Regions from separate parts of the Homo sapiens genome. Here region 1 is linked to region 2. Evidence: fine-mapped expression QTL. A gene starts in region 2. The other region holds a variant in brackets. All regions are shown on one strand. Distances are from middle to middle.

The links.
Region 1: its variant is fine-mapped to the expression of KEL in lung (GTEx, PIP 0.92).

Annotation. Positions count from the first base shown.
Region 1 is chr7:143,291,774-143,300,846 of GRCh38, forward strand. It overlaps CASP2 (caspase 2), which reads left to right. Exons shown (of 11, transcript NM_032982.4): 3 at 527-694; 4 at 844-925; 5 at 2,457-2,551; 6 at 2,824-3,000; 7 at 8,150-8,278; 8 at 8,431-8,521. It also overlaps the pseudogene RN7SL481P. Among named protein-coding and RNA genes, the nearest start is that of CASP2, 8.0 kb to the left of the region's middle. The variant A/G (reference allele first, on the strand shown) is at 3,455.
Region 2 is chr7:142,956,947-142,966,019 of GRCh38, forward strand. It overlaps KEL (Kell metallo-endopeptidase (Kell blood group)), which reads right to left and starts at 5,417. Exons shown (of 19, transcript NM_000420.3): 1 at 5,258-5,417; 2 at 4,849-4,926; 3 at 4,414-4,555; 4 at 3,982-4,158; 5 at 1,358-1,482; 6 at 881-1,027. The coding sequence starts at 5,260. RefSeq lists an enhancer at 832-1,547, a silencer at 5,181-5,376 and a cis regulatory region at 7,499-7,900.

The DNA.
Region 1 (9,073 bases), 330 kb after region 2:
TTCTTCCTTTTTTTTTTTTTTTTTTTTGAGACAGAGTCTCTGTCTCCCAGGCTGGAGTACAATGGCGCGATCTTGGCTCACTGCAGCCTCTGCCTCCCAGGTTCAAGTGATTCTCCTGCCTCAGCCTCCCAAGTAGCTGGGACTACAGGCAGGTGCCACCATGCCTGGCTAATTTTTTGGATTTTTAGTAGAGACAGGGTTTCACTGTGTTAGCCAGGAGGGTGTCGATCTCCTGACCTCATGATCCACCTGCCTCGGCCTCCCAAAGTGCTGGGATTACAGGTGTGAGCCACCACACCCAGCTGGATGTTGTACCTTTCTAAAGAAATGGAAATGCCCTTCTACCGTAGAGCATTTGAGAGAAATGATATATAACTCAAGAATAACAGAAAGGACTTCACCCATACATACACTTTTCCTGTAAAAAGAATTCTTGGATGAGGACACTACTAGGAAGCTCATGTGGAGAAATAGAATTATAGCTAGAGAAGTAAATATGATTTCATGTTTTATTCTTGTGTCTTAGGCCAAAGTGGGCAGTTTCAGCCAGAATGTGGAACTCCTCAACTTGCTGCCTAAGAGGGGTCCCCAAGCTTTTGATGCCTTCTGTGAAGCACTGAGGGAGACCAAGCAAGGCCACCTGGAGGATATGTTGCTCACCACCCTTTCTGGGCTTCAGCATGTACTCCCACCGGTATGAAGCTTTAGTAATATGGGGTGTTGGGAAGGGTTAGTTTGACTGGAAAGGAATTTGTAAGTCAGAGTGAGGGAGACTAGATTTTGTTGTATTTGGACCGGACCACTTCCCTAAGGTCTGTCATCATGAGTTTTGATTTCTTACAGTTGAGCTGTGACTACGACTTGAGTCTCCCTTTTCCGGTGTGTGAGTCCTGTCCCCTTTACAAGAAGCTCCGCCTGTCGACAGGTGAGAATTGATGGACTAAAAGGGGTCCCAGGCCAGGTGCCACGGCTTACGCCTATAATCCCAGCACTTTGCGGGGCCAAGGCGGGTGGATCACCTGAGGTCAGGAGTTCGAGACCAGCCTGGCCAACATGGTGAAACCCCGTCTCTACTAAAAATATAAAAACTAGCTGGGCATGGTGGTGGGTGCCTGTAATCCCAGCTACTCGGGAAGCTGGGGCAGGAGAATTGCTAGAACCCAGGAGACGGAGGTTGCAGTGAGCCAACACGGTGCCACCGCACTCCAGCCTTGCCAACAGAGTGAGACTCAGTCTCAAAAAATAAAATAAAATAAAATAAAAAGGAGGGGGGTGTCCCAGATTGACTTCCCCTTTCTTGTCTGGTATCTGGCTTTGTCCTAACATGAGCCCTTTTTTTTGTTTTTTTTTTTTTTTGTTGTGTTTTTTTTCAGAAATAGGGTCTTGTTCTGTCACCCAGGCTGGAATGCAGTGACACCACCATAGCTCACTGCAGCGTTGAACTCCTGGGTTGAAGGGCTCCTCCTGCCTCAGCCTCCCAAGTACCTGGGATTACAGGTGCATGCCACCACACCTAGCTCATTTTTAAATTTTTTGTAGAGAAGGAGTCTCACTTTGTTACCCAGGCTGGTGTCAAACTTCTGGCCTCAAATGATCCTTCCGCCTTGGCCTCCCAAAGTGCTGGGATTATAGGCGTAAGCCACCATGCCCAGCTGAGACATAGTTTATATTGGGAACAGTTGTCAGTAAATTTGTTAAGGGCTAGTAGGACAGTTTATGCAGGAGTTTGTGGTTTTTTGTTTTTTTTTTTTCTTGTGATGGAGTCTTGCTCTGTCGTCCAGGCTGTAGTGCAATGGTGCAGTCTCGGCTCACTGCAAACTCTGCCTCCTGGGTTCAAGTGATTCTCCTGCCTCAGCCTCCTGAGTAGCTAGGATTACAGGTGCGTGCCACCATACCCAGCTAATTTTTTGTGTTTTTAGTAAGAGATGGGGTTTCACCATCTCCTGACCTCGTGATCTGCCTGCCTCGGCCTCCCAAAGTGTTGGGATTACAGGCATGAGTCACTGCGCCCGGCCCAGGCAAGGTGTTATTAATAGTTGGTCCATTTCCCTTCCACCCCAGATAACAGTTTTTGTGATAATTGGGCCTTTGAGTAGCATGTATGGGCAGGAAGTTCATGCTCAATTGGCCTCTAAAAAGCTGAATAAGAAAAGACTACATTTGGGGCCACCAGCCTGCTGATGGAGCATCCTAGTGATTGGAACGAGGCTTTTATCAGCTAGCCCATTCGGTCATTCAGCCAGTTGAGCATATGCTTCATGCAGGCTATGTGCAGAGAATCCTTTAGTGAGCTAAAACTAAGAGTCTCTGCCCTCATGAAGCTTACAGGTTTGGGTAGTGAGTGAGACCAATATTTATCACAACCCAGTTGCAAGAGATGTCTGAAGTTACAATGACATATTAAGATTGATGGTTAAGTTATATACTAGTTTTTTGGTTTTCTGTCTATACCACAGATACTGTGGAACACTCCCTAGACAATAAAGATGGTCCTGTCTGCCTTCAGGTGAAGCCTTGCACTCCTGAATTTTATCAAACACACTTCCAGCTGGTGAGTTTTTGCATAATGACAAGAGGAAGAGAGTTGGGAAATTAGACACCCTTCCTGGGAACCTGAACTTAGTTTGCATGTACATTTCCTTTCTGCCTTATTAGTCAGAAAGTTGTTACTGGTTAAATGCCTTCTGTGAGCATTTGTCTATTTTTACCTGCTGGAGGTTAAGAAGAAAAATACGATGTCTTTGTTTTCTTGAAATGTCTAATCTAGCCGAGGAATCATCTGTTATCAAGACGCTCATGGTCTAACTGGCCTCTCCTCCACAGGCATATAGGTTGCAGTCTCGGCCTCGTGGCCTAGCACTGGTGTTGAGCAATGTGCACTTCACTGGAGAGAAAGAACTGGAATTTCGCTCTGGAGGGGATGTGGACCACAGTACTCTAGTCACCCTCTTCAAGCTTTTGGGCTATGACGTCCATGTTCTATGTGACCAGACTGCACAGGTACCTGAGGTGGGAAAAATTGACATGTAAATTAGAGGACTGAACAACACTTTGGGACCAGAGACATCGTTTGTTCCTGTGCCTGCTGGGATATGTCTTAAAAGTTGGTTTATTCTACTTACATTTTTACTCACTCTGTTCTGCCTCTCACCTTGCATTCTAGTAAGAAAGAATTAGGGCCGGCCAGCCATTTTAGTGTTGACATCTCAGGTTGTGGTTTCATAAAGTAATAATAGTCCACAGTTGGTGTCTCACTTTTTTTTTTTTTTTTAAAGACAGAGTTTAGCTCTGTCACCCAGGCTGGAGTGCAATGGCACGATCTCGGCTCACTGCAACCTCTGCCTACCAGGTTCAAGCGATTCTCCTGCCTCAGCTTCCTGAGTAGCTGGAACTGCAGGCGCATGCAACCATACCTGGCTTATTGTTGTATTTTTAGTAGAGACGGGGTTTTGCC[A/G]TGTTGGCCAGGCTGGTCTCAAACTCCTGACCTCAGGTGATCCGTCCCCCTCGGCCTCCCAAAGTGCTGGGATTATAGGCATGAGCTACGGCACCTGGCTGGGAAAGTATTCTTAACATTTGTGTAATCACAAGTCATAGGGTAGATTGTTTGTGGACCAGATTTCTAGAAATTGTAAACATTTTCATTATGGGCTGTTCGTCATTAACCTCAGTTACTGTACTGCACAACTGACTTTGTGACCTTTAGGGTTTCTATTTTGCAATCAATAATGGCCTATTTGTAGATTCATATTCACTCTTTATTTTGATTCCAGAATAGTAGAACTTTCTTCAACTTGCTTTGAGGTTGTCAGTGGTGAAATTAAAATTGCTAGGAGATTCACTTTGATCTGTTGGGATAGAGGATCTTTGTTTTCCATTCAGCATTGTCTGTAGTCTTCATTTCTCTTTCTTAGCTGCCCTCCTTCTGTGAGAGTAATTATGTATTTACTATATTTTTGGCAAGGCCAGTTTCATCCACAGGTACCTGGGTGTTGTCCTTTACATGCTATTTTTGCCAGCTTCCCCCTTGTAGCATATGCAATGTAGTTAAATCCACCCTTGCTTCAAAGCCATGGCAGCAACAGCTGCTTCAGTCATCAAGTATTCAGGTAGTTTATATGCTTTCCTGAGAAGTCTGCTGGGCATAAAGGGGCAAAGGGCAGGGTACCAGCCATAATTCCTACAGAAGGTCACTTAACAAAATGTGCAGTGTGTGTGTTTTCTTAGAGGTTTTGGTCTAGCCATGTCTTTTACTAGAAATCTATTATGTCATGGTTTTTCAAGTTGTATGCAGCTGATAAAGGATCTTACATGTCTAATAGTTAAAGATAAAATACTGAGTCACTAAGTCAACTATATATACTGCTGTTTTCTCAGAGACTGTCAGATTTGGTGAGTTTATGAGCTCACTTCATAAATAGCATTTCCATTTATGGTAAGCCTGATGCATATTCAGTGACCTATTGGATTCTAATTCTTTGGTTGAATTGCTCTGTAACTGGAATTGCAGTAGAGTTGAACTTCAAGCACCTTATAATGGGGGACTATGTGAGCTGCCACAGATTTTAAAGATCAGATGAGGGAGTTTTGACATCAGCATAAAAGGAAGTGTGTCCTCTTATATTCCTAACGACCAAACAAGATTAGAGAAAAAATCTTCTGTCATAGCTAAGAAGAAGAAGCGCCTAGGTAGATATGATCAGAAGGATAAGTGGAGGAGGCAGAACTTAAGCTGGCCTTGAAGGATAGAAGTTACTGAAGCAGAGAGGAGTGGTGAAGCCACCCTAGGCAGGGAGAACAGTATGTGGACAAGAAATGTGTGTGTTATAAACCAGGTAGTTGCAATGGGTGTCATAATTTGGTACACTGGGCATCTGCACAGAATGCTCTCTTCCTGGTGGGATCTCCCTAGAGAGTCAACTCGTTTATCATATAGCTATTTGGCAAGCAAAGAAACAGAACCAAAAAAAAAAAAAAGATCCTTTTTTCTTTCCCTATCAAATCTTTCTTACTTAAGAGAGGAATTCCATTTAAAAACAGGAAATAGTATAATTAGTCTTAGAGACTCCTCTTCCCCTGATAGTGCTGCAGTGAACATGGGTATTCTCACTGCCCAGATGTTTTCACTTTTCTCTTTGTTATTAAGTTTTTATTGCATCTACTTCATGAGGTTACTAGTTCTAGAATTATGATTTACCCTATGTTAGGAAACGTACTCTTCAAAGTGGAAATTTCCTTTTACCATGTGGTATTGTTTTTTTAGCTTGCATTTGGGTCACAAACTGCTTTGAAAATGTAAGGACAAGCTATGGGTTATCCCTGGAAAATGCAGCTGCCCATATAATTTAGCATATAATTTCAGAGGGTTCACAAGTTACTCTCTTCACATGTCCCCCAACCCCTAGCCAAAAATACACTTAGGAGTTAAGAACCCTGCTATTTATAGAAGTACTGTAATTTTATCAAAAACAAATCTGCAGATCCTATTTTAAGCTATGCTACTTGTAGAAAAATTCCTCCAAATGTCTAATCCCCATTTATTGAATGGTTTAGTCTTACTAAGTTTGGTTACAAAGTGCGTGTATTCTTTTTTTGGACATTGTTTTCTATTTACTGACCTAATCTCACTAAATTCAAAATGCTCGTGATTCGGTGCCCAGGTATATAATTTTTGTTTTCTTTTTTTTTATTTTGAGATGGAGTTTCACTTTTGTTGCCCAGGCTAGAGTGCAATGGCGCGATCTGGGCTCATTGCAACCTCTGCCTCCCAGGTTCAAGCAATTCTCCTGTCTCAGCCTCCTGAGTAGCTGGGATTACAGGCGCATGCCACCACGCCCGGCTAATTTTTGTATTTTTAGTAGAGACAGGGTTTCATCACATTGGTCAGGCTGGTCTCAAACTCCTGACCTCAGGTGATCCACCCGCCTCGGCCTCCCGAAGTGCTGGGATTACAGGCGTGAGCCACCGCGCCCGGCCTTTGTTTTCTTCTTTGAGCAAAATTAACTTCTTTAACTATTAAATGTTAAATTCTATTAGCATCAGCTCCAGAGGAACATTCACAGTTATGTATTCTCTTGAAATTATATATTCTTGAAAGAATTTTTTGATTATCTGTCATTACCTTAAGATTTCTATTATTATGGTTTGCTTCTACTTAGAAAATACAGATACTTTTCAACAACACCAGTCTCTTTATTTCTAGTTATATTGCAGACTTTCAAATATTTTATGTAATTGCATCTCAATTATCTACAAACAGAAGTATTCCGAACAGATCAATTAGTAGCTCTCAAACTTTAACATATCACAGTGTCCTGGAGGGCTTGTTAAAACACATTTTGCTGGAGCCCAAGATTTCACGTTTCTTCCAAGTTCCTGGGTGATGCTGCTGTTGCTGCTTTAGGGGCCACTCTGAGAACTACTGCAATATGTTATATTATAGAAGTGTGCTTTTTATTTTGGCAGTGTGTGTGATTAAATATATGTGTGTTTTAACTCTTCCACCCAGATAACTTACTTATTTTCATTACATTTTATTCAAGTTTATAATAAAATGAACTTGTTTTCTTTCTGCCCATCTCAGAAGACCCAGACATCGTGAATTATAGAGGGAGGCATAGGTTTAAACATGTGTGCCCAATTATTATGCTCTTTAGGTACACAGTATAACCTTCTGATGGATGGACCAAATGCTTAAGGTAGTGCTCTTCATGTATCGCAACTTAGTGCAAGATAAACAAGATTCTCCAGGCATGGTGGCACATGCCTATGGTCCCAGCTACTCTAGAGGCTGAGGCAAGAAGATTCCTTGAGCCCAGGAGTTCTAGGCTGTAGTGTGCTATGCTGATCAGGTGTCCAAACTAAGTTCATCATCAATATGGTAACCTCCTGGGAGTGGCGGACCACCAGGTTGCCTAAGGAGGGGTGTACCAGCCCAGGTCAGAAATGGAGCAGGTGAAAACTCCTGTGCTGATCAGTAGTGATCTTACACCTGTAAATAGTCACTGCACTCAAGCCTGGGCAATATAGCAAGATCCTGTCTAAAAAAAAAAAAGATAAACAGGAAAACAGTTCTTAAGTTGGACTACAACATTGACCAGTAATAGATTTCTTTGAGAAAAATACTCTTTATTCGACATGCACATTGTAATGGCACATTTTTTGCAATGTGTCCCAGACACAGTGATCGGTTTTTGGTTTTTTTTTTGAGACAGGGTCTCTCTCTGTCACCCAGGCTACAGTGCAGTGGTGCAGTCACAGCTCACTGCAGCCTCAACTTCCTAGGCTCCAGTGATCCCTCCACCGTAGCCTTTAGAGTAGCTGGGACTATAAGCATGCACCACCATGCCTGGCTAATTTTTTTTTTTAAAGATGGAGTCTTGCTAGGTTGTCCAGGCCAAGTCCTTTGTCATAATATCTCATTTTTATCTTCACAAACTTAGAGAAAATATCCTCATAATTTTTTTTTATAAAGTGAAAAGTGAGGTCTCAAGGGTCTGAGTAAGCTGTTCCAACTCATGAAGCCAAGGTTCAAACCTAGATTAATCTGAACCCAGGACCTGTGTATGTAATTACTGCCCTGTACAGAATCCTCCTTCATAGCGTGCTCTTTCTGAAACAAAGCATTTTATACAGTCATCATCATTATCTCTTGGACACTTAGAATCTTAGAAGACAACATACAAGTATTGCTATTCTCTACTATCATGATGCTGTCACAGAACAGTTTATTTTCGTGTAGCTGAATGTGCATGTTACTTATTCATAGCTACACTTTGAGTCACCCTTGTGCCATTTATATACAAGGGCAGTTGCTCTAATGAAGGATCTGGTTATGAACAGGGAATTAATCAGAGTTGACCAGCTCATGATTAGCTTCTTTAGTAACTTGCTTTAATCCAGGAGCTGTTTGCCTATCTCAGTGAGTCTGAATCTGTATTCAGAATATTGTGTCTGAACTCATATGCATTTTTCTGGTGAGTCCATAGCTTTCTTTAGTCTCTCAAAAGGTCTCTTCTTTTATCATTGACCACAGGAATATACATAAAGCGTTTTATCTTCTAATAGCTTAGGGTTTCAAAAAGAAACCAAACTTTGATGCTTATGTTGGTGCTGACCTTAGTGCACAACACTAAACATTCCTTTCTTTTAGGAAATGCAAGAGAAACTGCAGAATTTTGCACAGTTACCTGCACACCGAGTCACGGACTCCTGCATCGTGGCACTCCTCTCGCATGGTGTGGAGGGCGCCATCTATGGTGTGGATGGGAAACTGCTCCAGGTGCGGATACCCTGGTGGAAGCCAACTGTTGAAACCAGGCTGCTTTACCTCCTGCCTGCTGTCTGTCAAGTGATGGCTACTGTTGCATGTGTAGGACTTAGGAGGCCCCGCTGAATGCTTAACCTCTCTTCTTCCTTCTTTCTTTCTGGCAGCTCCAAGAGGTTTTTCAGCTCTTTGACAACGCCAACTGCCCAAGCCTACAGAACAAACCAAAAATGTTCTTCATCCAGGCCTGCCGTGGAGGTGAGTGCCCTAGCAGACCAGCACCTGGGTGGTGGCTCCTGGGCAGCCTCCCACCAGCTCTCACTTTCCTGTTTGCTCCTCTCAGGTGCTATTGGATCCCTTGGGCACCTCCTTCTGTTCACTGCTGCCACCGCCTCTCTTGCTCTGTAAGTGTCTCCCAATGCATGGGGTGTGCTGGGACTTGGGCAGCCCATGGCTCTCAGGCTGGTCAGCTCTCCGTGCACCACCATATCCTGTTTTCAGGTCTCTTATCCCGTGTCTTTGCCTTCCTTTCTGAGAACTCTTACTCTTTTCTGTGCTTCATTAACTCTGGTGCCCTTTTTTTGGTTACTCATTCCAGTTACGGATTTTTGATCTGTCTTTTTCCTGTCCTTCTTATTTTATCTCCTTTCTTTCACTCTTTGTTCTTTTCACTTGTTCCATATACTTCCCTGTTTACCTACACTTCCATGCTTGCCTCCTTTCTTCTTTCTTCTTACCATTCTTGGGTCATGCAGGATAGCAGAACAGAATCCGTGTTGGCCTTTGACTCTTCCTTTTCCGTGAGCTGCT
Region 2 (9,073 bases):
GTTTTTATTTAGTTACTCACTCACTACAAATACCTGGCAAAACTTCTAGCTGCCTGGCCCTGTGATAGGTCCTGAGAAACAAAGGTGAATAAAGCATGGTCCTGTTCTAAAGAGGCTCACAATCTTCAACACAGAGTGATAAATGCTGAGAGCATGAGGAAACGAAAGTAGGGAGAGCAGGGCTTCACCTAACTCATAACTAGGGTGTCGGTGAAGACTTCCTGGAAGAGATAATAAAGCCAACATTTGAAAAACATGTAAGTTTTCCAGGTTCAGTGTGGGGGATGGTTGCAGGCACAGGGAGCAGCATAGGCAAAGAACTGAGGAATATTCCTGGAAGCAGCAGTGAGTCAGCATGGCTTGGGGGTAAGGGAGAGAAGGAATGTACGGGAGATAAGGCTGGAGAAGTGTGTAGGGGTCAGATCACAAGGTGCTTGCAAAGCTTTACTAAAGATTAGGGACTAGATTCTGATGACCTGGCAAGCCACTGGGTCACTGACAAGCATTTAAATACAGACAGTAGCATAGTTAGTTAGCCCTTGGTTTAGAAAAGTTCCCTCTAGTAAAAATAAAGAGTAAATAAAATGAGGGCAATCCTAGAGATAGGAGGACTGGTTAAGGGGCTCTGAGACTAATCCAGATTAACAGTAAGAAAGACCAGGCCTACTTCTGTCTTCCCAGCACTGGCTCTGCTGCTCCATTTCCCACCCCCAGCTAATGTCCCTGACTTTCACATCAATAATTTTCCCTTAAGGTAGGGTTGTTTCCTATATCACACAGGTGTCCTCTCTTCCCAACCTGCAACCTTCCTCTAAGGGATGATTGGCTAGAGTTGGAGGCAGGCCAGGTCCAACTGTGTCTTCGCCAGTGCATCCCTCACCTGGATGACTGGTGTGTGTGGAGAGGCAGGATGAGGTCCTAGGTAGGCTCTGAAGAAAGGGAAATGGCCATACTGACTCATCAGAAGTCTCAGCGTTCGGTTAAAGTTTAAGGAAGTCCATTTACCAGAGATGCGCCAGCCTCCAAGCTTTAAAGGAGAGAGAGGGGGCTGAGCATAAGGATCCGTGGAGCCCATCCCCCATTGTCTGGATCGGCTCTTACACAGCTGCTACTGCCTGACCTCTGCCCTGCGCCCTTCGATTCCTCTAGGAAGCCACATCTATCCTTTTTTATCTGCCTTCTCCCAAGGTCCTGATACTTTCATAGGGCATAACCATTTCCATCTCCATCTCCCTCCTAGAAATTGGGGGGCCCTAGGAAGAAGACCCACCCTCTAGAAAAAAAAATGGCAGCCCTAAGCATGCATTGGTCCCATATGTTATGTATCCAGAAAAGTTAATATCCCAACTTTTCTCACCTCCTCAATAACTTGTCTGAGGGGACCAGTCCCTGCAGCTTCAATGGCAAGTGTATCCATGCAGGAGTTGTAGAACTGGAAGGCTTTCTCCTCCCCAGAGCCTGGGTGCCAGGAATTCTGGACCTCTAGAAAGGAAGCATGGGAGTGAGGACTAAACTCTGATTTTTTTTATCTTGCCCCAAATTCCTATCAAAGGGGTCTGGGGAGTCATGCCCTATATCATAAGTTCTCATCAGATGGGTTTTATTTAACCCATGTAACATGATTTACTTTCTAACCTGATTCTGGCATAACATTACGAGACAAAGAAGAAAACAAAAATATTTTACCCCAAAACATGTTTCTTTGCCACATTTTGAAATGGCCCTGCAAAGCTGTTCTTTGTGGAGGAAAATTTGCATCTGTAAAGCATCTCTATTAGCTATTAACATATCTCATTAACATAGCTAGATCTTTTGATTAACTAAGATCTGAATAGGAAACATTTGTCACCTATTGTCTCTAAGGGCAGCCACTATAAGACTTCAAAAGAACTTCGGTCTCCGCAATCTTTATCTTACCCTGAACATTCCCTTTCTATCTATCCCAGATCTTTAGACAAACTCAAGCAACTGTCAATCCGGAAATGTTTAAATTCACCTGTACCCTGGAAGCCACCCCCACCCCTTTGAGTTGTTCCACCTTTCTGGACCAAACCAATGTATTTCTTAAATGTATTTGATTGATGTCTCATGACTCTCTAAAATGTATAAAACCAAGCTGTGCCCCAGCCACCTTGGGCACATGTTCTCAGGATCTCCTGAGGACTGTATCATGGGCCATGGTCACTCATATTTGGCTCAAAATAAATCTTTTCAAATATTTTACAGAGTTTGACTCTTTTTGTCGGCAGGAGAATTAAAGGAGTGGCAACTGGTATAGAGGCAAAGAGGGAGGGTGGGAGACAGGGAGCTTACAGGAAAGAAAGACTCCCACAGAATATGGAAGGAGGGGGAGGAATAGAGATGAGGAAAATAAGAAAGATGAGAGGACTGCCCAATTTGGAATGGATCAACTTGATGAAATGATGAAAGCAGGGAAAGAGAATGAGGAGAAGAAGACAATATGGAAAATAAAAGAAATGTGGGGAAGAAACCAAGAAGGAAAAGACAGGGAAGAAAGGAGAAAGGTAGCAATAAGTGGGATATGGGCAAAGGAGAAAAGAGAGAAATGAAAGACAAAAGAAATGATTGAAGAAATTAGACAAATTCAGGGAACTAGAGAACTTTAAGGATTTGGAGAGAAGAAAACTCATAAGGAAAGGTTTAGCAAAGAGAAGAAACAGGGGAAGACTCTTCTAGTCCAGACTCCTCATCCATTGATCCCAGGAAACAAACACACTACAATAATCAAATGCAAGTCTCTCTGAATCATCCACCCTCTAATATCTAACACTCTTTTCACCCTCAGTCCCCCTGATATCTATTCATCCCATTGTAGGCAATATAATTTATCCTGAGCATATTTTTTCTTTTTATCTCTGTGCCTTCCCTGAAAGTATCCATTTACCCAAAGAGAGGCCCCCTCCCACTCTTTCCCCATCAAAAAAAGAGGGCAGAGGGGTGCATTTACTTTTCCCAGATTCTAATTGATAGTGTCAACACATTCTTTAGGTTCCCTTGCACTGGAAATGCATGTCTATCTTATATGTTCTTATTCCCAAATCCTCACCACCATCCACCAACTTCCTGGGACGCACTTCCAACCTCCTACTCAGTTTCAGCTCATCCTTCTGGTTTTCCTCTCAGTCCTGGCAGTTTTCCTCTCCAGCCTCCATCTGCAGGAACTTTACTTCCACTGCCAATTAACTCAGCTCTCCTCTTCTTCCAGCATATCCTTTGTACTTACCCACTTTTTCTCTTATGCACAGTGATGAAGCCCTCTCTCACTTCTCACCCCACCATCCTACCCCTTTCATTCCACCATCATCCATCATCTCCAATCATCCATCTCTAACATCCCACTTGTTCCAGGTCAACTTGCTTGCCATGGTTCAAGGTTTCAATGGAGAAGCAAGAAGCAAGAGATCATTGTGAGAGAGGGGAGCTCCGGCATGGTGAGAGGGAGAGGGTAATGTTGACAAGGAGTCATTGGGAGACTGAGGTTTTGGAGGTTAGAGAATGAGAGTGATGGACAAAAGAATTGAAATGCAGGAGATGCTGAAGAGATGCTTGTGGAGGAAAACACCATGCATAGGATAGAAACTGAACATTTGGAGGAAGCAACAAAGATGGAGCTTGCTAAAAGGGACAAGTTGGAGAGAATGGAGTAATTATGGATACATGGAGAAGCAAAGAAGATGGAAATTAGATAAAGAAAAAAATGCAGAAAGGGACCAAGAGAAACGGAAGAAGGGTACCCAAGGCAAGGCAACAGGAAACAGTGAGAGATGAGCAAACCCAGGCAGCTCCCGCCATCCTGCCTCTTTTACTCCCCCATCATCTCCAATCATCCACCCGTATAATCCCACCTGGGATGGTGCAAATCAGTTGTTCCACAACTACACAGGGTTTGGAGCAGTCATGGTCATTTTAGGCACAGAGTCACCCACTTGCACAGAGCATCTTCCACCCTGCTTTCCTCACCCAGTATTCTCCGAAGTCGGTTTTTGTTCTTTGTGGCAAGCTCCTGAAAAGAATTATTGGTCTCTTTGGCCCTTCCACAGGCAAAGCTGAAGAAGTCGGTGCAGGGGGCCACACTTGTGTTCCCAGAGGCCAGGTAATGATCCCGGAGATCCAAACACACAGATGTCTCACAGGGGCCTGTGGGGAAAAGCTCAGAGCTGGGAAAGAAGAGGCAAAAAGACAAGGGCTCCCCCAAGGGGCTAGGCAAAGAACATCAGGTGAGTAACTAAGTGGGGAGCTGATGAAAAAGAAATGGTTAGGATGCAGGGAGGAAGAAGAACCATGGGGACCCCAAGGGTCAGGGTGGGCAGAAGCCCCAGGAGCAGGGACTGGGCCTGGGCCCCAGGGCTGGGGGAGGGCTGACTAGGTTAGGGGGTCTGGGATCTTGCTTACGAGGGCCACAGTTCTGGAAGTTGTAGAACAAAAGCACAGAAAAACAAAGGAGCAGGCCCAAAATCAGGATAGCTGTCAGCACCCGCCTGGCCACTGCCCATGGCCTGCTCCCTTCCACGGGCAGCCTCTCTTCTGGAGTGCTCTGTGGGAGGAACCAAGAGGTGAAAGATACAAGATGGGGGTTGAGAGACAGGGATGGGAAGAAGAGGAGAGAGAATGAATCTGTTGGTGCTACAGTCCCTTTATACAGAAATAATTATCCCAATTCTTCCTAAACCCAGCCCTACTTTAACTCCTGGGAGATGAGAAAACAAGGAATGTCAACTGTTTTGGGTGAGGATGAAGCAGACAGTTAGTAGATGAGTGTTTGTGGGATTTTAGAGCCGAGAGTGACAACATCAGTGTATTCCAGACCCAGGAGAGGAGGCCACTTACCTCTTGGCTCCAGAGAGTTCCCATTCCACCTGCCTGGCTGCGTTCCCTCGGCTCTTCCTCACTTTGGTCCCCACCTTCCTGAAGTGAGTGGAGGGAGAAGGAGGAGAGAGAAGCTGGTTCAGGAAATGGTGCATTGAAGAGAGTTTTATCAGGCCATTTTGATACCCTCGCTGCCTGCCCTGCCCCCACACACATATTTTTATCTCGGAGCAGTGTTCCCAGATGGGCTTCAGAACGAACCTGTCCCCTGAATGTGCCATTTCTCGATCCCTCTCCCATTACCTCCCTCTCTCCCCACCTTTCTACTCTGTAAGCCTTACATTCCCTCCCCTCCAGTGGGGGCAGGACTTTTGCACACAGCCACCCTCACCCCTCCCCGCTAAGCCTCTGACTCCAAAAGGGGACTTACCATCTGTCTATCTTCTGTGGCTCCAGAATCCTTCCTGGTTCCACTCTAGGAGCTGATTCGGAGGACTGGGGTCCAGGAAACACCCCCCGCCCCAGTTCCTTGATCCTGGAGAAGGGGCACTTCTGCTGCTCTTTCGCCTTGTCCCCAGACACACAGGACTGGCCTCTGGGTGGAGCCTGCTTATCAGTGGGGGGCACCCAGGCTTCTCCTCCCCCTTTATCTCAGCTTCTCAGGGGAGAAGAGGGAGGGAGTCTTCACTCCCCAAGCAATCTTGCCCTTGGTCTGCTCCTTTTGTCTTGCACTGTGACTCTGCCCATGAAGTTCCTTTATTTCTAAAATATTCTTCCTTCTCTCATTTCTTCTGTATTAAAAAAAATATGAGGCACAGTAAAATTTTAAAGAGTTTATTTAAGTAAGAAGCAATTCATGAATTGGGGAGCACCAGACCGACAAAGGTTTAGTGTTGCGATGACAAAATGTCAGAGGCAAGCATTTATTGGGAAGTTATAGAAGCAAAATGAAACATTATTTGCTTAGTTTGCAGTTACATAATTGCATTTTTTAGGTAACTTTTTGGAAAGTCCCTAGTCACATAATCATATGTTAGTTGGCTGCTTATCATTGGCTGGGGTTAAGTTTTATTTGTTGTAAGCATTTATCAGAAATTGACCCAAGTTAAGTTTAATTTATGTTTGTAGTTTTAGCAAGAATATGGCTATTTTTAAGGTCTTTGGCTTTGTTTGCCTGGGAATTTTTCAGGCCCAGTCTCCATTTTAATTTTGTTTTCACACCTCTCTGATTGGCTTTTCTGGGATTCATCAATTCCCAGGTCAAATGCCACCTTTCCCAGGAGGCCTCCCAGCTCCATGCCCATTCACACTGTTCCCAAGCATGCTTAATTGTTTCTCTCGGTGTTTCATAGCTCTGCTGGCTGCTGGCAAAGTCATGCATTCAAAAGATCACCCAGCTAGGAGACCCTAATCTGCTAATTATTAGCTCTGTGACAATAAACAAGCCACTTAAACTCTGAGGCAGGTAAGCAAGTTTTGTCATCTGGAAAATGAGGGTAATACTTGCCTATGCCTACCTCATAGGATCTCATGCCTTCTACAAAAGAATAAGGCTTTACTGAGCCCCTCTTTCTTTCATTCTGCTTTCTGTTACACTGATAGCTTGCCTCTTCATCTCCTTAGTGATTGAAAACTATGTCATAGCATGTACAGTGTCTGGTTTTCATTCCTGCCCACCCAAGATGCTTTCTAAATGTTAATAGAAATGAATTGCATTCCAAGCCAGAAATCCTCTTTCTCACATCATATTAAGCCCTTACCTGTGGTCTGAGAGAGGCAAGCACATTTCTGGGGGAAGGTGTTTCAACTCTGTCCTTGTTTCCTCATCCCAGGAAAAAAATAATGTAATTTATTAGGTTAGTCTTGCAAATGATCCCCTGGCGATATTTCCAGATTCCATCAGCACTGTGCTAGGGCCATGGTGCACTTGCCAGGATGAGGGTGGGTGTGGAGAAGTGGAGTAAAGCCATTGTGCCCCCTGGGGCCAGCTGGTCGGGTATCATGAAAGTCATAAAGAAAAGTCAGAACTTCATACATTAGAAAAGAAAGCATTGGGAAAAATAAGGCTTTTGAGGAAAGGTGTGGCAAGATACAATAATATCTAAGAAACGCCGGTGTGGTATTGGGGATCTGGACTGATTGGATAAAAGACAAGAAACAGAGTGGTTAGTTTGGTGTTGCAGGAGTGATGAAGGGAGGGCCCGGCCCAAGGGGATGGCAGAGGGGAGGGAAGTGCGTAGAAAGAAAAATTGTATGGAATAAAGTCATGGCAATGGATTGAATGGAGGAGGGGTTTATGATAGAGCCACAGAGGAGCTCCAAGTTGCATTTCTGCATGACTAGGGGAATAGTGATGCCAGCGAACAATGGAATTTTGATTAAGGGGGGAGTAGGAATCAGAGTGAGGGGAAAAAGCTGACTCAGGATTCTAGAGGTGTTTGGTCTGTGTGGGTACACCCTGATGGTGCCTCCTCTTCAAACTTCCCTTCCACAGAAAGTCCAATACTCTCCCCATGGGCTTTTAGCTTCCTTCACACATATTCCCTTCCTCACTCCTTTTCTATCAATCAAAGCCCCTGAGCTGATGTTTCCCTAGGAAGATGATAATGGAGACCACTTAGATTTGATAAGAGAAAGTTGAAGATGGAGTGTGCTCTGTGACATTTGCCTATGGACAGCCACCACAGCCTGGACTTAGGTTCTCTCCCTGTCAGAGAAGCTGAGCCAGCCACAGGGATAGGGCAGCACAGCTGCCAGGTCCACCATTCCTACTCAGCCTCCTCCTGAAGGCCAAGCAACCTCCATCCTGGGAGCTGTCTCAGGAGCAGGACTTCTTCTTATCACCCATATCCTACTCCATGGTGAGTCATCACCAGCACAGCCATACCCAGTCACGGGAGTGCAGCAGCCTTCACTCAGATCTAAGCCCCGAGAAGAGGTGTGTTAACAGCTGTGGCACATGGACCACATTTATCTTTTCGGATGCTGCCTCCTTCTTGCCCTCAATTGTCCTGTCTGTTTATTTTAATTCCAGGAGGTTTTGTTTCATGCCATAATAGTATCAAAATAAAATATTGGTAATAATAAAAATAACCACTTTTTACGGAGCACCTTCTTTGTGCTAGGAATGTGCTAAATGTTTTGCTTGTACATTTTCCTTCAGTCTTCACAGCAACTTTCTGAGGGAAATAACAGCTTTTATTTTCCCCATTTTATAGATGAGCGGTCAGAGAGATATGAAAGTACAGTGAACTTACTCAAAGTTACAAAATTAATAATTAGCAGAACCGAGAATTGAACCAAAGCCTTAACCATTGAGCCTCTCAGTCACTAAGTATCTGTTTTTTGGAAGTTTCTTCATAGTAAACATCTTCCTTCATCTAAACTCTTCTTTTTAAACTATGTTTCACTGCTTGGCCTTGTGAGGTGACAGTTTTGGGGACTAGTATTCTCAAACTCTCTAACATCCAGTTTCATCATCTGAAGATCATGGCCTTTGCCACAATGTTCTATCCATAATCAGCTGCCATCTACAGTGGATGTGGTATCAAAATCAAGGACAGGACATTAATCTGTCTATTGTGACACTCTCAAGTGTGCACATGACTGGCAATTTGCTTCTAAGATCACTCGATTGCAGTGATAGCCACTAAGAAGCTACCCCCTAAAGAACAATAAACCCAGTTCTGAGTGAACCGAAGTAAGCCTTGACATCACAAGCAATGTTGAGGACTTTGCCCAGAAGATGATGGAGAAACAGATCATGGGGGGCAGGTTTTGGGGTGCACTGATTGCTCTTTCAAAGGAAGCAATACTTGAGAATTGGGGAGCTCCTTTGGGAAAGAGTAGCTTGTAAGTTCAGTATACCACAAAGTGGCTTTTGAAATAATTTAAGTGATAAGTAGATGGACCTCTTTCAATATGTGTGTGTGTGTGTGTGTGTGTGTGTGTGTGTATATATATAAATATATATTTATATTATATATATTATATATATATTTATATTTATATTATATATATTATATATATATTTATATTATATATATATTATATATATTATATATGTAATACATATTATACATATAATATATATAATATATATATATATTTTTTTGAGACTGAGTCTCGCCCTGTCAGCAGGCTGGAGTGCAGTGGCGTGATCTTGGCTCACTGCAACCTCCGCCTCCTGGGTTCAAGCGGTTCTCCTGCCTCAGCCTCCCGAGTAGCTGGGACTGCAGGTGCACGC